3 separate regions of the Homo sapiens genome follow, and all the other regions are linked to region 1. The links come from fine-mapping of genetic effects on gene expression. A gene starts in region 1. Each other region holds a variant in brackets. All regions are shown on one strand. Distances are from middle to middle.

The links. PIP is the estimated chance that this variant, and not a neighbour inherited with it, causes the effect.
Region 2: its variant is the best candidate, but not a certain one, in a credible set for the expression of UBE4B in whole blood (INTERVAL, PIP 0.55).
Region 3: its variant is the best candidate, but not a certain one, in a credible set for the expression of UBE4B in whole blood (TOPMed, PIP 0.50).

The regions. Positions count from the first base shown.
Region 1 is chr1:10,029,606-10,037,785 of GRCh38, forward strand. UBE4B (ubiquitination factor E4B) reads left to right here and starts at 3,353. Exons shown (of 28, transcript NM_001105562.3): 1 at 3,353-4,089. The coding sequence starts at 4,066. RefSeq lists silencers at 2,971-3,360, 3,391-3,610 and enhancers at 3,125-3,779, 4,171-4,220.
Region 2 is chr1:10,147,942-10,156,121 of GRCh38, forward strand. UBE4B (ubiquitination factor E4B) reads left to right here. Exons shown (of 28, transcript NM_001105562.3): 20 at 1,243-1,341; 21 at 3,385-3,620. Among named protein-coding and RNA genes, the nearest start is that of KIF1B, 59 kb to the right of the region's middle. RefSeq lists a silencer at 7,212-7,413. The variant AAAT/A (reference allele first, on the strand shown) is at 4,318.
Region 3 is chr1:10,104,061-10,112,240 of GRCh38, forward strand. It overlaps UBE4B (ubiquitination factor E4B), which reads left to right. Exons shown (of 28, transcript NM_001105562.3): 6 at 1,456-1,684; 7 at 2,137-2,523. Among named protein-coding and RNA genes, the nearest start is that of UBE4B, 75 kb to the left of the region's middle. RefSeq lists an enhancer at 4,664-5,164. The variant C/T (reference allele first, on the strand shown) is at 4,995.

The DNA of each region.
Region 1 (8,180 bases):
ACACTGCGGAGGGCTGCAGGGTCCTCTGCCTAGGAAAACCAGAGACCTTTGTTCACTTGTTTATCTGCTGACCTTCCCTCCACTATTGTCCTATGACCCTGCCAAATCCCCCTCTGCAAGAAACACCCAAGAATGATCAATAAAAAAAATAAATAAAAAAAAAGAAAAAAAAAAGAAGACAACCCAATTAAAAATGAACAGAGGGAAAAAGAAAAACAAAACAAAAAAACAAAAACACACACAAAAAAACAGAGGGCCAGGTGCAGTGGCTCACGCCTGTAATTCCAGCACTTTGGGAGGCCGATGTGGGTGGATCACTTGAGGTCAGGAGTTTGAGATCAGCCTGGCTAACATGGCAAAACCCTGTCTCTACTAAAAATACAAAAATTAGCCGGGCGTGGTGGCCCATGCTTGTAATCCCAGCTACTCGGGAGGCTGAGGCAGGAGAAGCGCTTGAACCCAGGAGGCAGAGGTTGCGGTGAGCCGAGATTGTGTCAGTGCACTCCAGCCTGGGTGACAGAGCAAGATTCTGTCTTAAAAAAAAGAAAAAAGAAAAGAAAGAGAAAAAGCCGGGCACAGTGGCTCATGCCTGTAACCCCAGCATTTTGGGAGGCGGAGGTGGGCGGATTACGAGGTCAAGAGATCCACGAGAGCATCCTGGCCAACGTGGTGAAATCTCATCTCTACTAAGAATACAAAAATTAGCCAGGCATGCTGGTGGGCGCCTGTAGGCCCAGCTACTTGGGAGGCTGAGGCAGGAGAATCACTTGAACCTGGGAGGTGGAGGTTGCAGTGAGCTGAGATCGCGCCACTGCACTCCAGCCTGGTGACAGAGCAAGACTCCATCTCAAAAAAAAAAAAAAAAAAAAAAAAGAACAGAGAATATGAATGAATAGGTATTTGTCCAAAGAAGATAAACCTAAGCAGATGTTCAACATCATTAGCTCCTAGGAAAATGAAAAACAAAACCACAAAGAGATACCATTTCACATCTACTGGTGTGGCTACAATAAAAAAGACAGACAAAAACCATTGTTGGTAGAGATGTAGAGAAGTTAGAACCCTCACACATTGCTGGTGGCAGTGCAGCTGCTTTGGAAAACAGTTTGACAGTTTCTCAAAAAGTCAAACATGTAATCCTGCAATTCCTCTCCTAGGTATATGCCTAAAAGGAATAAAAATAAAAACATATGTCCAAACAAACACTTGTACATGAATGTTTATAGCAGCATTACTCATAATTGTCAAAAGGTGGAAACAACCCAAATATCACTATGAATTGATAAACAAAATGCGCTACAGCAATACAGTGATACATTTGGCATTAAAGAAATGAAGTACAGATATATGCTACAATATGCGTGAACCTTGAAAACATATGCTAAGTGAAGGAAGCCAAACCCCAAAGGCCACACGGTGTATTGCTCCACTGATGTGAAATGTCCAGAATAGGCAAATTCACCAAGACAGAAGGTAGTTATCCTGCAGGAGTCTTTTTTTTTTGTGACGGAGTCTCGCTCTGTTGCCCAGGCTGGAGTGCAGTGGCACGATCTCGGCTCCTTGCAACTTCTGCCTCCCGGGTTCAAGCAATTCTTTGCCTCAGACTCCCAAGTAGCTGGGATTACAGGTGCCCGCCACCACGCCCTTCTAATTTTTGTATTTTGTATTTCACCATCTTGGCCAGGCTGGTCTTAAACTCCGGACCTCTTGATCCACCCGCCTTGGCCTCCCAAAGGGCTGGGATTACAGGCGTGAGCCACTGCGCCCAGCCCGGGAGTGACTGTTAATGGCTTTGAGGGTTTCTTTTTGGGATGATGAAAATGTTCTGAAATTGGACAGTGAGGATGACTGAACTGTGAACATAATAAAACCACTGTACACCTTAATTGGGTGAATTGTATGGTATGTAAATTAGATGGCAATAATGAGGTTAAAAAAAGTAAACTTTTAACATCAATGTCACCAGGGGTTCAAGTTCTGGCTTACACAGAATTCCTTTCCTGGAGAGCAGATAATATGCAAAGCCAGCAGTGATTTATTTTTACTCACAAATTCCTTACATATTTTTACTCACAAATTCCTTACATATCTAGTAGTCAGGTTCCTATTTTAAGCATGTAGCAAATACATTGTAACTCTTAATTCTGGAATGCAGTCTTTATGGCTTAGTGAGCCATCCAATCCACTTATAGTCTTCGTCAGCGGCAAAATCTGGAATTTCATGGTACTGTTACTTTGATCGCTCAACTTAGATTTATATTTTATAAATATATATATACATACATATATATATATTTTTTGAGATGGAGTCGCGCTCTGTCGCCCAGGCTGGAGTGCAGTGGCGCGATCTCGGCTCACTGCAAGCTCCGCCTCCCGGGTTCACGCCATTCTCCTGCCTCAGCCTCCCGAGTAGCCGGGACTACAGGCGCCCGCCGCCACATCTGGCTGATTTTTTGTATTTTTTAGTAGAGACGGGGTTTCACCGTGTTAGCCAGGATGGTCTCGATCTCCTGACCTCGTGATCCGCCCGCCTCGGCCTCCCAAAGTGCTGGGATTACAGGCGTGAGCCACCGCGCCCGGCCAAATATTTGTATTCTTGTGCACCGGAGGATGGTTTTCCCCCACTGACTCCAAACGTCTTCCTTGCATTTGCTGTGTACAATTCAGTGATTTGGGTCTCTCATCCATTTATACTTTCAAATTTTACCAATACTTTTTGAACACACTTAAAAAAAAAAAAACCCAGGAAGTATCTCTAAAAGGCCAAGGTAAAATAAAATGAATGGGAGTTCTTGTGTTCGAGTTTTCTTCCAACTGGGCTTTCCTGGAGGAGGTGGAAGAGTGTGTGGCAGATGTTTCAGAAAATGAGCGCTCAATACGGTAGATCACGCTCCCGGGGTCAAGGAGACGTTTTCCGTTTTCTTTTCCCTCGCTTAGGCGGCGGGCGCGCACAGTCCAGTGGGAGCGATGAGGTGTTTCTAGGCCCCCAAGTCACAGAAAAGCAGGCGATTGGGAACAACGGAGGCGCGGCGGGCCCCCGGGCCGCGGGCCAGCGCCACCTTCTGGTGGATCTTCCCCGACGCGAGTCTGGGAGTCGTCCCTCCCCTTGCCAGCCTACCTGGCTCAGGCCCGCCGCGCCCGCAGCCCCAGCGCGGTCGCCGTGGCAACGCCCCGCCCAGCCGCCAGCCTCCCTTTGCCCCTCCCCACGTCCGGCGCGGCTGCGCGGGACGGGGTGGGACGGAGGCGGGGAGAGGACGCAGGCGAGAGGAACTCGGCGGCGCGGCGCCCGCGGCCTATTGGCTGCCACGTCCCGGCGCCAGAAGCCCCGCCTCCCTGACGGGGGTCACGTGATCCCTTTCAAAGATGGCCGCCCTGTTGTTTTGATGAATAATACTTGGTGGGGCGAGGGGGAAAGAGTAGGGGTGGAGGGGTAGGAGGATTTACTCTTCCAGCGAGAGCTACGCGCATCCCATCCTCCCCCTCCCCCCTACCCGGGCTCCGGCGTGGAGGCGGGGCGTGGCCGGCCTGCTTTGGGAGGGGAGGGGCTTCCCTTACAGTGCTGGGCTCTGCCAGGACGGCTGTGGGGTCGCCTTACCTCGGGGTATCCACTCTGCAGTCGACCAGTTCCCGCCAGGAGCAAAGGGTAGGAAGGAGAGCAGGATCTGCTGTAGGAACGCAGCTACCGCGCCACTATCACGAAGAAACAGCAGGCTCGGGGCACGAGACGAACTGGAGACCGCGCTGCCTAGCTGGGTAACCTGGGAAGCAGAGGGTAATAAGTGGCGCCTTAAGACAACCCTGTAGCAGCAGCAGTGGCGGCCAAAGGAGGCTGCTCAGGGAACAAGCGGCTGTAGTAGTCTGTGGGGCGACTGGAGTGACCGAAGCCAAGGCAGTTTAGTGCCTCTCGTGTTCTTATTTTTTAACCTCTGACTATGCAATTCTGAAACCTCCCCCATTCGGGGGACCAGACAGCCTGATAGACACCTTCCACTCTCCTTCCTCCCGCCGTGGTCTCGAGAACAGAAGGATCTCTCCTTAACGCCTTTCACCATTAAGAGGAAAGCGATGGAGGAGCTGAGCGCTGATGAGGTGAGGAGGTTGGGGGACACCTTGAGGGATTAGTTGGCAACTCGTTAGCGCTTTGGACAGGGATGGTATTGCGCCAGTGCTGTCTGGCCTTTGGGCTTGGAGAAGGAACGGAGATGATATTTTCCAAGAATAACGTGACTCCCCGATAGGGTCTCTGGTTTTGTTCTCCTTTATTCTGTTGCCTTCTTTCTTCATTCTGAACTCCATTTGCTTCTTTCCGAGTGTTCTTTTAGGGTATGAACAAGAGGAGAGAGCATCTTGAGGTGTTTATTCTTTTCTTCAGGGTATGCGAACAAGAAGGGCGAGATTTACATGAAGTTAAAGTGTGTGTGTGTCTGTGTCTTCAGGAATTTAAAGAACAATTTTGGATGGAATGAGAATGTATGGTGGGTGAATATTTTTAAAGAAAGCATTTGAAATTCCAGATATGTGTGGTTATTGCACTGTATAAGCTTGATTAAACATATATTTTTGCTTGAGGGGTGGTTTACAGACAGATTCTTTGATATTTAACAAAATATGTATCTTCTCCACAGTTTAGAGAATTCCAGTTATATTCTGGTACTTAATAGACCACTAATGACTTCTGGCATTCTTCTGTTACATTCTATCTTTTCCTACTTCTTGAATCTTTCAAACTTGTGTTTTGCTGTAGCAGAGACTGAACGGGAAGCAAGTGGAAGCAAATGACTTTCTAAACTCTCTCCTGTTCTCATTTCTTAAAGGAGTTATACAGATCTACTTCTTGATGTTTTAAAGATTGTTTAATAAATTAGGTTGTTGTAAAAAAAAAAACAACCAAAAAGCAGTGGCAATTAGGGTACAAGGAATTTCCTATGATTCTACTGCCTTTTCTCTTCCTTTTTGCAAATTAGGAGCTTCCCTTTCAGGACCCCTACTGGCCATACCCTCTTTAGCCTACCTCCACATTTCTTCACTGGTTCATCATGTAAACTTCCCTACAGTATTAGGAAAGCAGTCATCCATCAAGTTGATTGTACTACAAGACTTCCATGCTCCAGTTTTAGCTACAGAGTACTTAGTGTGTTTACTTAGGGACTGAAATTCTCCTGGGATAGGACACGCAGTGGTGTGTTAAGGGTCAGGTAGGAAAGGAAGCAAATGATTTTGTTGATTGTGATACTTGGATACTTGGTTTGGAAAATCAGGACTGCCCATTCGGCGTTACTTTGTTTTTTTCGAATACAGCAGAAATGTAATCTTAAGTGAAGAGAATATTACACAGTTTCTTTCATTCGGTAGGAAATCTCCTTAGAATCGCTTTATTTTATGTGGGTTTTTTTTTGTTTGTTTGTTTTTTTGAGACGGAGTCTTGCTCTGTCGCCCAGGCTGCAGTGCAGTGGCGCGATCTCGTCTCACTGCAAGCTCCGCCTCCCGGGTTCACACCATTCTCCTGCCTCAGCCCCCTGAGTAGCTGGGACTACAGGCGCCCGCTACCACGCCCGGCTATTTTTTGTATTTTTAGTAGAGATGGGGTTTCACCATGTTGGCCAGGATGGTCTCCATCTCTTGACCTCGTGATGCACCCGCCTCAGCCTCCCAAAGTGCTGGGATTACAGGCGTGAGCCACCGCGCCTGGCCTGTTTTATGTGGTTTTTTAAAAGTTTCTCTACCTCCCCCGTTTTTCATTAATGTTAATTCTAGTGAGTAATTTCTCTTAAGGCAGAGATACTGTTTTTTTTTTTTTTTTTTTTTTTTTGAGGCGGAGTCTCGCTCTGTCGCCCAGGCTGGAGTGCAGTGGCGCTATCTCAGCTCACTGCAAGCTCTGCCTCCCGGGTTCACGCCATTCTCCTGCCTCAGACTCCGGAGTAGCTGGGACTACAAGCGCCCGCCACCACTCCCGGCTAGTTTTTTGTATTTTTTTGTGTTTTTAGTAGAGACGGGGTTTCACTGTGTTAGCCAGGATGGTCTCGATTTCCTGACCTTGTGATCTGCCCGCCTCGGCCTCCCAAAGTGCTGGGATTACAGGCGTGAGCCACCGTGACCGGCCAGAGATAGTTTTTTTATTTTTTTTTATTTTTTATTTATTTTATTTTATTTTTTTTGAGACGGAGCCTCGCTCTGTTGCCCAGGCTAGAGTGCAGTGGCGCGATCTCAGCTCACTGCAAAGCTCCGCTTCCCGGGTTCACGCCATTCTCCTGCCTCAGCCTCCCGAGTAGCTGGGACTACAGGCGCCCGCCACCACGCCCGGCTAATTTTTTGTGTTTTTAGTAGAGACGGGGTTTCACCGTGTTAGCCCAGGATGGTCTCAATCTCCTGACCTCGTGATCCGCCCGCCTCGGCCTTCCAAAGTGCTGGGATTACAGGTGTGAGCCACCGCGCCCGGCCGAGGTAGTTTTTTAGTAGTCCTTTACTCCTATAAATTACTTTTTTTTTTTTTTTTTGATGATCTGTTAATAGTCCTTGGTTTAGAGGCTTTTGCATACTTGAGTTTTCACCAAAAAATTCTTTTCAAACCAGTGAGGCATTACAGACCAGTGAAGATATTGTATAATCTAAAATGTGTCTCTTCACTTTCATCAGTCCTTGAGGAAGGTGTAACTTTTTTTTGTGACCATATGAGGAACACATGTAACCTTTGTGGAAGAAATAGAATAAACTTTTTTCAAGGTCAACAGAATATTAAAATAAATGAAAAAAATTAAATTCACTAATACAGGATCAATGTAAAATTATCTTCAACAAATTAGTTGTCCAGAACACAAAGGGCTGGTTCAATAACTGTTAATTTTACTCTCAGCAGAACCTAGAACAAATAATATTCGTTTGTTTTTAATTTAAAAAATCTTTTTTTTTTTTGTAGAGACGGGGGTCTTGCCATGTTTCCCAGGATGGTCTCAAACTCCTGACCTCAAGCGATCCTCCCACTTCAGCCTCCCAAAGTGGGAGCCAGACAAATAGTTATTTTGGGAAAAATATCTTTGAAGTTTTTCTTTTTAATTCAATTAAAAATTTTTGAGGTTAGGTAAGCAGTTCTCATGAGACATTTCCAAAGCTTTTGCCTTTGTATTGTTACTCTGTAGTTGAAAACTTGTGTCAGATATGGTAGGTGACATTGATTTGATTACAAAATAATACACTTATATTATTGAAACTTCAAGCTTATATTTCAGGGTTAAAACAGGCAAGGCGGTGATCTTTTAATCTAATTTAGGAAATTAGGTAAGGCAGAGTTTCATATTTTAACAAAATGAAAATGTATGATTATACAGTCCGTGAAAAAGGCTGGTATAACCAGACTGGTAGCTTTAGGAACTTTTAAATTATGTGCACTTTTTGGTCCCTGTCATAGATCACCTAGAATTCTTGTGCTTTTTAAATTTTTTTGTGAGACAGAGTTTCGCTCTTGTTGCCCAGGCTGGAGTGCAATGGCGCGATCTTGGCTCATTGCAACCTCTGCCTCCCGGGTTCAAGCGATTTTCCTGCGTCAGCCTCCCAAGTAGCTGGAATTACAGGCATGCGCCACCATACCCGGCTAATTTTGTATTTTTAGTAGCGACGGGGTTTCTCCATGTTGGTCAGGCTGGTCTTGAACTCCTGACCTCAGGTGATCTGCCTGCCTCGGCCTCCCAAAGTGCTGGGATTACAGGCATGAGCCACTGTGCCCGGTAGTCTTGTGCTTTTAAGTAGAGTACTTTAACTTCACTGTTGTTTGTTATTTATATAGTGTATTACAGTGAGTTCATTGCCCTATAGTTCACTGCCTATAGGTTCATTGCAGAACCATGACTAAGTTCATTCTCTTCAGGAACCTACATTCCAAGGCATCATTATTTACATTATATTAATTCTATAATCTACTCATGTGTTGTTTTTCGTATCTCAAGGTGGTGCTGTGAGTAGGTGGTGTGTTTATTTTTGAGATAGGGTCTGGCTCTATCGCCCAGTCTGGAATGCAATGGCATGATCTTGGCTCACTGCAACCTCTGCCTCCTGGGCTCAAGTGATCCTCCCACCTCAGCCTCCCAAGCTGAGACTACAGGCTCATGCCACCACACCTGGCCAATTTTTGTATTTTTTTCTAGAGACAGGGTTTCACCATGTTGCCCAGGCTGGTCTCAAACTCCTGG
Region 2 (8,180 bases), 120 kb after region 1:
TGTAGGCCGGGTGCGGTGGCTCACGCCTATAATCCCAGCACTTTGGGAGGCCAGGGCGGGTGGATCACATGGTCAGGAGATCGAGACCATCTTTGCTAACACGGTGAAACCCCGTCTCTACTAAAAATACAAAAAATTAGCTGGGCGCTGTGGCGGGTGCCTGTAGTCCCAGCTACTCGGGAGGCTGAGGCAGGAGAATGGCGTGAACCTGGGAGGCGGAGCTTCCGGTGAGCGGAGATCACGTCTCTGCACTCCAGCCTGGGTGACGAGCAAGACTCCATCTCAAAAAAAAAAAAAAATGTGTGTAGCTCTGTTGTTTCCGTTTGAGTTGCACAAAATGACCAAATAGGACCTTTTTATTTCCTTCCCATTTTACTTATTGCATTAACCTTAGCAAGAAGTCAAGAAGGCTGGGCGTGGTGGCTCACGTCTGTAATCCCAGTACTTTGGAAGGCTGAGGCAGGCGGATCACTTGAGGTCAGGAGTTCGAGACCATCCTGGCCAACGTGGTGAAACACCGTCTCTACTAAAAATACAAAAATTAGCCAGGTGTGGTGGTGGGCGCCTGTAATCCCAGCTACTCGGGAGGCTGAGGCACAAGAATTGCTTGAACCCAGGAGGCAGAGGTTGCAGTGAGCCGAGATCACGCCACTGTACTCCAGCCTGGGTGACAGGGTGAGACTCTGTCTCAAAAAAAAAAAAAAAATCAAGAAAAGGGCCAGGTGTGGTGGCTCACACCTGTAATCCCAGCACTTTGGGAGGCCAAGATGGGTGGATCACTTGAGGTCAGGAGTTCGAGACCAGCCTGGCCAACATGGTGAAACCCTGTCTCTATTGAAAATACAAAAATTAGCCAGGTATGGTGGCACGTGCCTGTAATCTCAGCTATTCGGGAGGCTGAGACATGATAATCGATTGAACTGGGGAGGTGGAGGTTGCAGTGAGCCAAGATTGCACCACTGCACTCCAGCCTGGGTGACAGAGTGAGACTCCATCTCAGGGGAGAAAAAAAAGAAATCAAGAAAAGGAAAACATTTCACACATACCCTTGCATATGCACTGTCTTCATTATTCCCTGTTCATTTCTGGTTGTAGTTTCTTTGCCTACATATTTATTACATAGTATTACAGAATGATTTTCTTCCCCAAATGAAATACTTATCCGATGGTAATGTAATACTCCTTGTAGTTTGATGTACCATAATTTCATTTAATAAATTGTCCTTTTTTTCTCTTTGACAGTATAACACTGCCTTTAAATTCAGATGTCCCCAAGGTATTTGCAGCGTTGCCTGAGTTTTATGTAGAAGATGTTGCAGAATTTTTATTTTTTATTGTACAGTAAGTGCCTTTAATATTTTACATAGTTCTAATATGTTTTTATGCATAATAGTATAATATTCTGAGCTATGTTGCAAACCTCCATTTCATGCCTGAAATTTGATGTAACTGTTTTAACTGAATGCTGCCTAGAGACTGGAAAAAATAAATCCAACTGTGGCATCAGTCCAATTCCAATAATATCTCAAAGACAGAGGCAGGATTAACAGTGCAGATAATGTATTCCTTGAAAATTGAGTTGAATTTCTAATAGTTAAATATGTGTTTCTGAGCAACAGAAGGAGGAAACAGTTTATAAATGTCTGAATGAACATCCCAAAACCAGAAATATCCACATCTATATTTTGTACTAAAATTTGTCTCAATTGTAAAATTGGAGAATGCTTACCAAGAAATGGTTTGAATTTCTAACTGGTATTGTAGGGTTTTAATTTTTTTTTCAAATCCTTATTTGGTTTATCAAATTAACATTTTATTTCTAAAACATTACAGGTTAGAAGAATTACAATTTCAATCCCTTGGCACCATGATAGCACCTATGACTAGCTGAGGGAGTGGTATGTGAAGTCTATTGTGAAAAGTAAAAGTCATGCTGGGCACTGTGGCTCATGCTTGTAGTCCCAGACATGCAGGAGGATTGCTTGAGCCTAGTTCAAGACCAGTCTGGGCAATGCAGCAAGTCTGCATCTCTTTAAAAAATAAATAAATAAATAGTATAGGTCCCCAGTCACAGAATACAAATTGTGAAAGTTTTGTAACAAACAACAGGAAAAAAACAAAATTAGTATAAATGATTTTAAAATAAGGGCCAAAAGTAAATGGAGCAAGTTAATATTGCTGTCATAAAAGCTGCCTTTAAAAAAAAGCCCAAATCAAGGCAGAGGTTGCAATGAGCAGAGATCATGCCACTACACTCCAACCTGGGCAACATACACAAAAAAACCCAAATCATTGGTGACACGTGATTTTGATTGGTATGAAATTTTAAAAGTGACTCAAAAACGTGGTTTATTTGTTGAAAAACCAACCTTGGAATTTAAGCAACTCAAGTCACATTTTAAAATTTGTTCTATGCACAGTGATACAAAAGACACCTATTTGAAAAATTTCATTTATTCTCATTTTCAGCAGAGATTAAAAAAAAACTATCAAAATTTTTATGTTTTGGTAGTGATGATCTTTTGTGAAGTTTATCTGATTTGATCATAGGTTTTGTTTATAGTTAATATAACATGCTACAGCCAGTAACCATGTTTGGTTTTAAATCTGTCTTGTTACAGTGTGAATAGTCACTGTAGGCTGGGTGCAATGGCTCATGCCTGTAATCCCAGCACTTTGGGAGGCCAAGGTGGGCAAATCACGAGGTCAAAAGATCAAGACCATCCTGGCCAACATGGTGAAACCCCATCTCTACTAAAAATACAAAAGTTAGCTGGGCATGGTGGCAGGCACCTGTAGTCCCAGCTACTCAGGAGGCTGAGGCAGGAGAATCGCTTGAACTTTGGAGGCGGAGGTTTCAGTGAGCCGAGATTGTGCCACTGCACTCCAGCCTGGGCAACACAGCGAGGCTCCATCTCAAGAAAAAAAAAAAAAAATAGGCTGGGCGCAGTGGCTCATGCCTGTAATCCCACCATTTTGGGAGGTCGAGGCGGGCGGATCACGAGGTCAGGAGATCGAGACCATCCTGGCTAACATGGTGAAACCCCATCTCTACTAAAAATACAAAAAAAATTAGCCGGGCATGGTGGCAGGTGCCTGTAGTCCCAGCTACTCGGGAGGCTGAGGCAGGAGAATGGCGTGAACCTGGGAGGCGGAGCTTGCAGTGAGCCGAGATCGCGCCACTGCACTCCAGCCTGGGCGACAGAGCGAGACTCTGTCTCAAAAAAAAAAAAAAGTCACTGTAAACTGAATGAGTTCAAGGGCACTCCCAAACCTACTTATCCTGCCTTCCCCTCCTCACTTACTGACACCAGCCTTCACCCAAGATGAGTTTCTCAGCAGTTTCTCAGCGGTCTCTTTCTTGCTCTTCTTGCCTCTGTTCAGATACTCTCCCCAGGCGCTTTATGAGCCCTGTACTCAGGATATTGTGATGTTCCTTGTTGTGATGTTGTGCAACCAGAACTACATCCGAAACCCATATTTGGTGGCCAAACTGGTAGAAGTCATGTTTATGACCAACCCTGCTGTTCAGCCACGAACCCAGAAGTTTTTTGAAATGATTGAGAACCATCCTCTCTCCACCAAGTTGTTGGTACCTTCCCTGATGAAGTTTTATACAGGTAGGTTGCTGGAACACAGTGTAGCACATGGCAGGCCAACTTAGGTAAGGTCATCTAAAGCTAGTGGACGACGTTGCTCTAAGCCTGTTACCTAATATCCTGCTACCTGTGTGTATAGCCTACTAACCTGTGGCCTGCAGAGGATGTACTTTTGGTTCTTCTTGCCCTGAGTAGTTAGGAATAGGACAACCATTCCACCTACTGGTCTCTGATGATTCAGCAGGAACTACTGAAAGTCAGATGATTGGCACCGAGACCCAGGGTATCAAGAGCACAAGTTGGTAGTGTTATCTGAATGGAATTATCTGGTTCATTTTACCTTTGAACTTACAGCATTTGTTTTTTAACACTATCCTATAACCCACTTTCCAAAGTGTGGGTGAAACAGGGAGCTTGTTAAAAATGCATATTCTTGGTCCGGGTGCGGTGGCTCATGCCTGTAATCCCAGCACTTTGGGAGGCCGAGGCGGGCGGATCACAAGGTCAGGAGTTCAAGACCAGCCTGGCCAGTATGGTGAAACCCCATCTCTACTAAAAATAGAAAAAAAAATTAAATTAGCCGGGCATGGTTGCAGGTGCCTGTAGTCCCAGGGCGGTTGAGGGAGGAGAATTGCTTGAACCCGGGAGGCAGAAGTTGCAGTGAGCCGAGATCCCGCCACTGTATTCCAGCCTGGGCAAGAGAACAAGACTCCGTCTC[AAAT/A]AATAATAATAATAATAATAATAATAATAATAATACCACTTTTCACCTGTCAAATTTATTTCTTAAGTTGAAAATACCTGGTACAAACATGGTTGTGGAGAAGTAAGCTAACCTGCAAAAAAACCTGCTTAATCTACCCTATAGCCAGTGTGCAGATTTAGTGCTATGAAACTCTCATGAGAATGCAAATTTAAAGCCTTTCTGAAAGGCAGTTTAGCAGCCCACACCAAGAGCCTTAAAAATGCTTTTATCGGGGCCAGGTGCGGTGGCTCATACCTGTAATCCCAGCACTTTGGGAGGCCGAGGCGGGTGGATCACCTGAGATCAGGAATTTGTGACCAGCCTGGCCAACATGGAGAAACCCCGTCTCTACTAAAAATACAAAAATTAGCTGGGTGTGGCGGGCGGCGCCTGTCATCCCAGCTACTCAGGAGGCCGAGGCACGAGAATCGAGTGAACCTAGGAGGCAGAGGTTGCATTGAACTGAGATCACACCAGTGTGCTCCAGCCTAGGAGAAAGGGCAAGACTCCGTCTCAAAAAAGAAAAAAAAAAAGCACTGGGATAACAAATAGTAGGTGCAGGAAGTAGCCATCTTCTATCCCTCAGTCTGGGGACCCAAGGGAAGAGCCTGGGGATCTCAGAACCCAGCTGCCCTGATGAGGGCTTGGACGGAGCTAGGACCCAGTCCTCTGTGGAAGGCCCTTGGCCAGTAGGTGCTGGTGTCTCTCTCGGGGGTTGTGCACGGTTGCTAGCTCTGGGGGTACGAGACAAAGCTGAAAATTGGAACCAACTGCTACTGCTGACAGTAAGTGCAAGGTCCTAAGTCCCTTGTTTCTCCTTCAGTTTTCCAGTTCTCCTGCAGCACCCCCTATTGGCAACCCTAGAGAGGGCGGGCTGCCAAAGGAAAGATTCTGCAGTGCCAGCCCCAGAATCACAAAGCCAACTACAAAGAGTGCATGTGGGCTGGGCACGGTGACTCCAGCTAATAATCCTAGCACTTTAGGAGGCCAAGGTGGGAGGATTGTTTGAGCCTAAGAGTTGGAGACCAGCCTGGGCAACATGGCGAGACCCCATCTCTACGAAAAATTTAAAAATTAGATGCCTGTTGTCCCAGCTACTAAGGAGGCAGAGGTGGGAGGAAGGCTTGAGCCCAGGAGTTCAAGGCTGCAGTGAGCTATGATCTTGCTGCTGCGTTCCAGCCTGTGAAACAAAGCAAGACCCTGTTTCTAAAAAAAAAAAAAAAAAAAAAAAAAAAAGGGTAAAAAGACTGGGTTTCGGCCAGGCACAGTAGCTTACACTTGTAATCCCAGCACTTTGGGAGGCCAAGGCAGTGGATCACCTGAGGTCAGGAGTTCGAGACTAGCCTGACCAAAATGGTGAATCCTAGTCTCTACTAAAAGTAAAAGGCCGGGCGTGGTGGCTCACGCCTGTAATCCCAGCATTTTGGAAGACTGAGGTGGGTGGATCACAAGGTCAAGAGATCGAGATGAGCCTCGCCAACATGGTGAAACCCCGTCTCTACTAAAAATACAAAAATTAGGCCTGGCACAGTGGCTCACGCTGTAATCCCAGCACTTTGGGAGGCTGAGGTGGGCGAATCACCTGAGGTCGGGAGTTCAAAACCAGCCTGACCAACATGGTGAAACCCTGTCTCTACTAAAAATACAAAATTAGCCTGGCATGGTGGCACATGCCTGTAATCCCAGCTACTTGGGAGGCTGAGGCAGGAGAATCACTTGAACCCGCGAGGCAGAGGTTACGGTGAGCCAAGATCGCGCCATTGTAATCCAGCCTGGGCAACAAGAGCAAAACTCCGTCTCAAAAACAAAAATTAGCTGGACATGGTGGCATGTGCCTGTAGTCCCAGCTACTCGGGAGGCTGAGGCAGGAGAATCTCTTGAACCCGGGAGGCAGAGGTTGCAATGAGCCAAGATCGCGCTACTGCACTTCAGCCTGGTGACAGAGCAAGACTTCATCTCAAAAACAAAACAAAAAACAAAACAAAACAAAATTAGCCGGGTGACGCATGCGTGTAATCCCAGCAACTTGAGAAGCTGAGGCAGGAGAATAGCTTGAACCCGGGAGGTGGAGGTTGTAGTTAGCCGAGATCTAAAAAAATTTTAAAAAAAAAGAGTGGATTTGGAGCTACGAGACAACAGCTGAATAGCTATACTCTGACATAAGAATTTAATTTCTTGAAATTTATTCAATGGAAATAATTACGAATGTTTGTAAGTGATGTTCTCCACAGCATTATTTATAAAGCAGTGCAGTGAAAATAATAAAAACAACTGGCCGGGCTCAGTGACTCACGCCTGTAATCCCAGCACTTTGGGAGGCTGAGGCAGGAGGATCACCTGAGGTCAGGAGTTGGAGGCTTAGTCTGGCCAAAATGGTGAAACCCCGTCTCTACTAAAAATACAAAAAAATTTAGCTGGGCGTAGTGGTGCACACCTATAGTCCCAGCTTCTCTGGAGTCTAAGGCAGATGAATCACTTGAATCAGGGAGGCAGAGGTTGCAGTGAGCCAAGATCGTGCCATTGCACTCCAGCCTGGGCTACAAGAGCAAATCTCCATCTCAAAAAAAAAAAAAAGGAATGTAGGGAAGGACATATACCAAAATAGTAACAGCGCATTGGTTATTTTTGAATGGTAGCATTATAAATAGTTTTTATTTTTATTTTATTATCTGAACTTCTTAATTTTTCTACAGTAAACATGTATTGTTAGTAGTAAAGACAAAACAATTTTAGTTAAATTTATTTTGTAGTCAGTGTTCTGGGCCTGTCACTGTGGCTTCAGGAGAGAGAGAGAGAGAGAGAGTGTGTGTGTGTGTGTGTGTGTGTGTTTGTGTATTTGTGTTTACACAACAGAACTGGGCCTGTTGCCTATAAGACGAGTGCTGGGCCTAGTGGAGTCCTGCTGGGAATGTTCCAGAAGGAATTGGGTGGGGGTTGTTCTCTCTTTCCTCTTTGCCATGTGTGCCCTCTGGCCTGGACCACCTCTTCAGTCATAGATGGATGACATCTGTACTAATAATAGCCACCACTTATTGAATGCTTACTAATCCTTTCACTTAATCCCCACGGCAGTCCTAAAGATAGTACTATAAATACATCCACTTTACAAATGAGGAAACTGAAGCTTAAAAGGGTCAAGAAGCTTGCTGAAGGTCAGTGGCTAGCAAGTGGCAGCAACCTCGCAGATGCCCTTTAGCACAGGTCCCCCTGGCTACTGTGCTGGTCTTCCTACAGCTACTAAGGGACCGGTGTGAGGGTACCCCTGAGGGAGGCATCACAGACATAGTCCCCAGTGCTCATCACCTCCATGTGAAGACCTGGCTGATTAGGTCCTGGTCCCTGAGCAGATGGGACCCTCAGATATAAATTAAAAGTTGCCACACACAAGATCAGTATGTGGAACAAGCTCCTCTTAACACCACAGAGATAGTATTCTAGCTTAGAAAATGCTCAAGTTAGGCTGGGCGTGGTGGCTCACGCCTGTAATCCTAGCACTTTGGGAGTCCGAGACAGGTGAATCACTTGAGGCCAGGAGTTTGAGACCAGCCTGGCCAACATGGCGAAACCCTGTCTCTACTAAAAATACAAAAGATTATCCGGGTGTGGTGGTGGGGGCCTGTAATGCCAGCTACTTGGGAGGCTGAGGCTGGGGAATTGCTTGAACCGGGACCTGGGAGGTGGAGGTCGCAGTGAGCCAAGATCTTGCCACTGTACTCCAGCCTGGGCTACAGAGTGAGACTCCATCTCAAAAAAAAAAAAAAAGAAAGAAGGCAGCAAGAATACCTGGGGGGAGGAGGGAGAGGTTCAACACAAGTCTAGTCCACCTACGGCCTTCTAGA
Region 3 (8,180 bases), 74 kb after region 1:
TACCTCCTCTTATGAAGTATAGATATAGTGGGTGGTCTCCAGGGATCCTGAGAGAAGTGTTCTGTATGAGCTATACCTGCTTTAAGTGCCTATGAAGCCATGTATAGACGGTGGAATTGGTCTATTTGGTTAAATTGCTTAGCAAGATAGAACATAATGACATTTTGCTGTGTTTCTGATATTCCACTTTAAGAGGCCAAGCTTGTAACAAAATAATAAAACTCTTAGCAAGATATCAGCATCATAGGGCACTATCCTTTTTCTTTACAGTAGTCATTTGGAACGCAGAAGAGGTATGGGAGGTGTGCTGGAGTGGTTTTTTTGGCCTATCACTGGAATGTAACTTCCCTCATGGTAGGGATTTTTGTCTGTTTTACTCATTGATGTATCCCTAGAAGGATATCTTGCACAAAATAGTCCCTCAATAGATAGATTTTAAATGGATGCGTGAATATCAAGGAGATCACCTTTCTCTTTTCTATGCTGCCTATCTTCTGAGGAGGGAAAAAAAAAGTCCTTTGTATTTCTGGAGGATAGATAAGACTATTTCTGATTTTACTTATTAACTCTGCTAATGGAGCAGACCATGTATTTGAAACTCTGCTACTTGTTATTCTTATTATAAATCTTAAGATTCTCTGTCTTACACATGTAAGTGGCAAATCTGTCTTACACATGTAAGTGGCAATTTTAAATAACCAAATCAGATAAAATTTCCATGAGTTAAAACTTTTGTTAAAACAAGTGTCTTACACATGTTAAGTGGCAACTCTGTCTTACACATGTAAGTGGCAATTTTAAATAACCAAATCAGATAAAATTTCCATGAGTTAAAACTTTTGTTTAGTGGTATTTAAAATGTATCTAAAGACCAACAGTAAATCAACTGGGAGCTGCAAAGAATAAGAAGGAAGCTAGAATGTAGCATTTGCTCCTGAAAGCCACATGGTGACTAGATGTTGGACCCTTCATAAAATCTTTTGAACCTTGGACTTAATAGTTTTATTACTATCTATAAAACATATCTAGACTAAGAAATATTAACCCAGTTGCATTTGTAGTATAATAAAGTAACCTCTATAGTTGGGAGTAGCTTCTTTTTACAATTAATATACATCAGCGGTAACTCTCAATGACTGTACCCCAACTTTCTTTTTAATAAACTTTTAATTTTGGAATAGTTTCAGTTAGTGCAGGGAGTTCCTATATATACTTTACCCAGTTTCCCCTGACGTTAATATCTTATATAACCATGGTACATTTGTCAAAACTAAGAAATTACTACTAACTAAACACAAGGCTTTATTTAGGTTTTCCACTAATATCCTTTTACCATTCCAGAATCTAATCCAGGATACTGCATCGAACCATTTGGGGTCAGCTGGCTTATTCAAGGGCTGTGTAACCTGTGTTCGAACTGTGTGTAACCTGTTCTTTGTTCTGCCTTTCCAACAGTATTCTCCGATTTTAAGGACTTGATTGGCCAGATTTTAATGGAAGTGCTAATGATGTCCACTCAGACCAGAGATGAAAACCCATTTGCCAGTCTGACAGCCACATCACAGCCAATTGCTGCAGCAGCACGGTCACCAGACAGAAATCTCTTGCTAAACACTGGCTCCAATCCAGGAACAAGCCCCATGTTCTGCAGCGTGGCTTCCTTTGGTGCCAGCTCTTTGTCTAGGTCAGTGTGGTTCTCTTTGCACATCTTACTGGTAGTAAAATAACTGTGAACTACGTAGGAGAAGGGAATGTTTGTTGACAGTGTTAATCAGTGTCATACAGGGTATGGCATATATCATATTTGGGGAGGTGGATTTAGTCATTGGAAGTGGAATTCTCTTTTCTAGATTATTATTTTTTGGCTCTCTATGGTTAAGATATTGCTAGATGAAATTTTAGAAGCAGTTGGCTGTGTATACTACATCATTCTTCGAATGGGGACTTTATCGTCTTGTAAGTATAGCCTCTAGATCAATAGGGCAATTAGATTATAATTATTTAGATGTTTATCTGCTAGATATACTTGAACTGAAATGATTCTCCTTTAAAAGCTTGATATTTTCTGTTTTAGTTAGTTATCTCAAGTTTTTCTTTGATTTTTCTCTTCTTTCCTCCCTTTCTCAACTAATTTAGCCTCTATGAAAGTAGTCCGGCTCCCACTCCCAGTTTCTGGAGCTCTGTTCCCGTGATGGGCCCGTCTCTTGCCTCACCTTCCCGTGCAGCCAGCCAGTTGGCTGTGCCTTCCACTCCCCTCAGTCCTCACAGTGCAGCCTCTGGAACTGCTGCGGGAAGCCAGCCTTCATCCCCGCGGTATCGCCCCTACACTGTCACTCACCCATGGGCGTCCTCAGGCGTCTCCATTCTGTCGAGCTCCCCAAGTCCCCCTGCCCTCGCCAGTAGCCCCCAAGCAGTGCCCGCCAGCAGTTCCAGACAGAGGCCCAGCAGCACGGGTCCACCCCTACCACCCGCCTCACCCAGTGCCACGAGCAGACGCCCCTCCTCCCTGAGGATCTCTCCTAGGTATTTATCCCACAGGAGAGTTGCATGTGTGTTTGCGGTGCAGGGAAAGGAGATTAACACGGTTTGGAAGAAGTGCTGTGTGACACTGACTCTGTTAAATTGTTGTTTTGGGTTATTAACCTGTGTGGCTAACTAGTTTGGTAGGCACGTACTCTGAGTCCATGCTTCTGCCAGGCTCTAATCATGCTGGAAAGTTTGGGTTGCTCTATTCTATTGTGAATCCCTTTCTTCCCTTTGAGAGTTGGGGCACACAGGAACCCTTTTTGGCCTTTTGTCCTGTTGCCAGTGGTAGTTGAAATGCTATCAGACCAAGCAGGTGTGGGAGCAAATCTGGGCCTGGTGTTTTTTACTTCTGGTGAGTGGGGTGGGTCGGTTCATGTCCTGACGTGTTGAGTTTTAGTTATATGTAAGTTCAGTCTCTTAGAAGGAAGCAGTATCAGAATTCCACTAATCCAGTGGCCCCTTCTCTCAAATGTACCTGTATGTGTTTCTATAATTTAGGTGAATTATGTTTCTGCATGTCAGTGGCCAAAAGTTTTAGTGTATGGTTTATTTAAAAGGACAGCAGTTGCAAAAGCTTCTCCCCGTCTTGTTTTTTCTTTGTTCTCTGATGGCCTTTTTTGCTTTTGTTGTGGTAGTATGTACGACAATCCTTTCTCCTTCCTCTTCCTCGCACTTTCTGGGGACAGTAGTGATGAAGAAGATGAAGAAGAAGATGATGATGATGGTGATGGTGATGATGAAGGTGGTGGTGGTGGTGATGATTTTTCTTGTGTCCAGTTTGGGTCCAGGTATCAGAGGAATGGAGTCTTACCCCTGCATGTGCGTAGATGCTTAGGAACTAACTTCTATAAGCTCTAACAAGGGGCGTGCTTTGAATCCAGGCAGGATAGGGTCAAATGAGGTGGGCTCCAGAGTATATTGATGTGTTCAGACCTTCTCATGGGATAAAGTAGCACATAGGAGAATTTTCTTTTTTTCTTTCTTTCTTTCTTTTTTTTTTTTTTTTTTGAGGCAGAGTTCTGCTCTTGTTGCCCAGGCCGGAGTGCAATGGCGCAATCTCGGCTCACGGCAACTTCCTCCTCCTGGGTTCAAGTGATTCTCCTGCCTCAGACTCCCAAGTAGCTGGGATTACAGGCACCCGCCACCATGCCCGGCTAATTTTTGTATTTTTAGTAGAGACAGGGTTTTGCCAGGTTGGCCAGGCTGGTCTCGAACTCCTGACCTCAAGTGATCTGCCCGTCTTGGCCTCCCAAAATGTTGGGATTACAGGAGTGAGTCACTGTGTCTGGCCCCAGAATTTTCAGAGTTGTCGCCTGGCAAGTTTGGAGGAAAACTTTATGTATAATCATTTTTCAAAAGCATGAAAACAGATTAAAGATCAGTCATCAAGTTTATCCACCTTTAGATCTAAAATGAGGGACCCTTCATTTATCTATTGCGAGAATGTTATTGTGAACTACCAGATGTGACAACTTGTACTCTCTGAGGCATGTTTTCTTAAGTACAGTTGCATGAATTGCTGCTATTTAGTAACGGGAGAGGGGCTGGGATTTGGGGGAGGTGTGTGTGTGTGTGTGTGTGCGTGCGTGCTCCCTTCCCACCCCCTCCCAGCCTCCACCGCCCCCCTGTTCACCCCCATTGAGCTCAGTCTGGGCAATCCATCGAAGAACATATGAGGTCATACCATCTGCATAACTGTGACTTTGCTTTCATGTCTAGCCTTAAATTTCTCTTAGCACCTCCTGGACCTCAGTGAAGCCAGACCCCATTTGTTTAAAGAGCCTTTGAAATGACCGCAGAGGCTGAAACATAGTTCCGGATGTTGCTGAATGTTTACCCCTGGAAACCGAGTGAAAAGCACTACTTGGGTTGTGTAGGTGACTTTGAGCAAGAGAATATAATAGCACCTTCTTTCTAATCCTCTGACTCATTGTCTTACAATTTTGCTCTTAAATTGAAGTTTCCTGTGGACTGAGTTGGTGTTTGTGCCCAGCACTGTTCAAAAATAACTCCAGGCTATAAATAGAGACTGCAGTAGGAGTTAGGTACACTTCATTCAATTCGATGGTGTTCAGAAGAATCATTAGAGAATACGTAAAGAGACAGAGGAATGTTGATGCAAGGTTGAATATTGATTCAGGAAGGTTGATATTTGTATTACGCTGAACATTTTATCACCATTTCTCAAGTAAATTTCCCAAAGGTGAAAGTGTCTTTTTCACGTAGATAAAATCCTATTGCATGATTATAGTAATAAAGCAGGCATCCTTCCTAGGAACCAGTTTCCACATGGTAAAAGTGCTGTGTTACCTGTTTTACTGTAAATTTTCTGTGGGAGAAATTCTCTCTCCCTGGCCTATTTAGTTGTGACTTTCTCTAACAACCGTATCAGATTGTGTGCTGCTTTTACTAATACCTCTCTTTCTGGACTTCTAACACCCCAGCCTTGCCTCAGATCTAAATTCTCT[C/T]CCTACTAGGAGGAATAAAATGTACCAAGTGTATAAAAATAGCTGCAAATACTCATGGAGCATTGTGCGCCAGATGTGGTGTCAGCTCTGTCCATGTATCAGCCCCTTTACTCCTCGCTGTAGCCTGCTGTGAGGAAGTGGCAGGGGGAACGGGGGGGCCGGGGGGACAGACAAGAGGGTCAAAATCATAGAAATGCATTCAGACTTGAGCATCCTGAATCCAGACTCATGTTCACCACCGCACCGTGCTGCCACCCACTTTTCCATTTCTGCCCAAATAGGTCTTGTTTGTTCTTGTTCCTTACTACTGTTTTTGCTGCCGAGAGTCTGTGCATCTACTCGGTTCCTTTGGCAGGGAAGTGCCAGCATTTCACTCCTTAATTACAAAATGCCATCCCAGTCAGTTGATATGTCCCTTGTTGGCCGTTACAGTGAACTGTGATCATCCAGATTTTGGCAGCTTATAGGTTCTTAGTTGATATAAAAAAGAATGCCAAAGCATGGGTAAAAATACATGACATAACTATGTAAACAAGTAGAAGAACTTAGGGTTCTTCTAAGTAGGGTCAGAGCCAAGATGAGCTAGCAAAAAACCTTGTTACTTTTTTTTTTTTGAGACGGAGTCTTGCTTTGTCACCCAAGCTGGAGTGCAGTGGAGCGATCTCGGCTCACTGCAACCTCCACCTCCTGGGTTTAAGCAATTCTCGTGCCTCAGCCTCCCAAGTAGCTGGGATTACAGGTGCATGCCACCACACCTGGCTAATTTTTGTATTTTTAGCAGAGACAGGATTTCACCATGTTGGCCAGAGTGGTCTCAAACTCCACACCTCAGGTGATCTGCCCACCTCGGCCTCCCAGAGTCTCAAACTTCTGACCTCAGGTGGTCCGCCCACCTCGGCCTCCCAAATTGCTGGGATTACAGGCGTGAGCCACTGCGTCCAGCCAAAACCTTGTTACTTTGAGCAGTCAGCAAAGAAATAGTACTTTATCCTTCCCCCTTTCTCATTGATCTTCCCAGAATTTTTTTACTCTGAAGTAAGCAATTTTAACACTCACTTCTTGCCTGGTAAGACTAATGTCATAGAAGAAAGAATCATCAGGGGTTGGATCGCTCTCTCCATCTGCTGGCCCAGTGGATTCGATGTCTTATAAATCTTTTTGGAAGTAGTTGGGACATACATTTATATGTTAAGTATTTATAGGGGTGATGATAAGGATTAATTTTAAAAAGGTAAAACATTCCTTCTGTAATGTTTTGCAGACTTCTGAGAAAAGAACTGTTTGAGATATAAAGAACTGCTTTTTGCGCGAGTGGCATAAATGAGTGAAGTGAGAATTACCGTGTGTGAAAAGATAACTGTTGGGTGGTGGGCTTAATGCATGGGTGATGAAATAATCTGTACAGCAAACCTCCTGTAACAGACCTTCATATGTACCCCCAAACCTAAAATAAAAGTTAATAAAAATCAATAAATCAATAAATAAAAGCTGGAAGTTGATCTGAAAAAAAAAATTACCCCATGGTAAAGGTACCGCAGAAGTTATCCGGAGGAAAATGTTTCTAATTGTTTCCTAGGAAGTTGATGACTAGAAAGAAATTTGGTGGTTTTGTGTTTGTTTTTTAACTGTAAATATTTCAGTGAAGGAGGTCAAATCTTGAATGTCACAAGCCTTATATGAGTAGAGAAAGGGAAAATTAGTGAATAGTGAAAAACGTTGACATTGACTCTCCTGTTTTTGCTGATTGTCACTGCTTGGGGTTGAAACATAGAAACAGTGGAAAAGAAATCATTCTGGCTGGGCACAGTGGCAAGCACAGGTAATCCTATCACTTTGGAGGCCGAGGTGGGAGGCTTGTCTGAGCCCACGAGTTAGAGGCTGCAGTGAGTCGTGATCATGCCACTGCACTCCAGCCTGGGTGATAGAGTGAAACCCTGTCCCTCTCTTCTCTCTGTCTCTCTCTGTCTCTCTCTGTCTTTCTCTGTCTCTGACACACACACACACACACACACACACACACACACACACACACACACACAGTCTTTCCACCATATCTATCCCTAAGATCCCCCAGTGATTTCCCTTCTCACACAGAGTAAAATCCAAAGCCTCTGACCATGGTCTACAAGGCCCTGCATCTCACGTACACTCCACATACTACACACACACACACCACGCGCTACACACACACCCCCACACCAAGCATACATGCACATACGTGCCCCATTCTAACTTAATCTCCCTCTACTTGTCTACTTCCCCTAACTCATGTACTGGACTCCTGTTCTTTGCACGTAATACTCCCTCCTGCCTTAGGCCTTTGTACTTGTTTCTCCCCTTCGGACCACTCTCCCCACTAGACAGCTGTATGGCCGGCTCCCTCACTCTCCTCAGGTCTATCAGAGGGTGGCCACTGACCTCATTGTCTCAAACATTATATAGAACACACACGCACCCATGCACGCACACCGTCGTTCTTCATCCGCCTGGTTCCGTGCACTATTCCAGGACCTACAGCAGTGCCTAGAACACAGAACATCCATTAGCAACATTTGTTTAATGAATTTATAGTGCCTAAACCTGCACAACTCTGACTTTGCCTTGCTATTAGAAAATGCAAGGCCAGGCGCGGTGGCTCACACCTGTAATCCCAGCACTTTGAGAGGCCGAGGTGGGCGGATCACTTGAGGTCAGGAGTTCAAGACAAGCCTGGCCAACATGGCGAAACCTCTTCTTTACTAAAAATACAAAAATTAGCTAGGCATGATGGCATGTGCCTATAATCCCAGCTACTAGAGAGGCTGAGGCAGGAGAATCACTTGAATCCGGGAGGCAGAGGTTGCAGTGAGCCAAGATCACACCACTGCACTCCAGCCTGGGCAACACAGCAAGACTCTGTCTCAAAAAAAAAAAAAGAAAGAAAATGCAAATTCCAAAGGCTGCATTTGAGAAGTCAGTAAATGGGAGAGTAATTATAGAAGAAACTGAAACAGAGTCGCTTTAAGAGCAAGTTTTGTTAGTGCATTTAAAATGGGATTCAGTCTGCACAGATCGGATGCACGTGTAATCCCTAGGCACATTTACATTGTGTTTTCAGAAGGATGCAGCTCTGTTTCTATTATGTGAAGTAATTACTTGGTTACATTGGACTGCTAATGTAGTTATCAGAAAGTGGTTTGCATATTC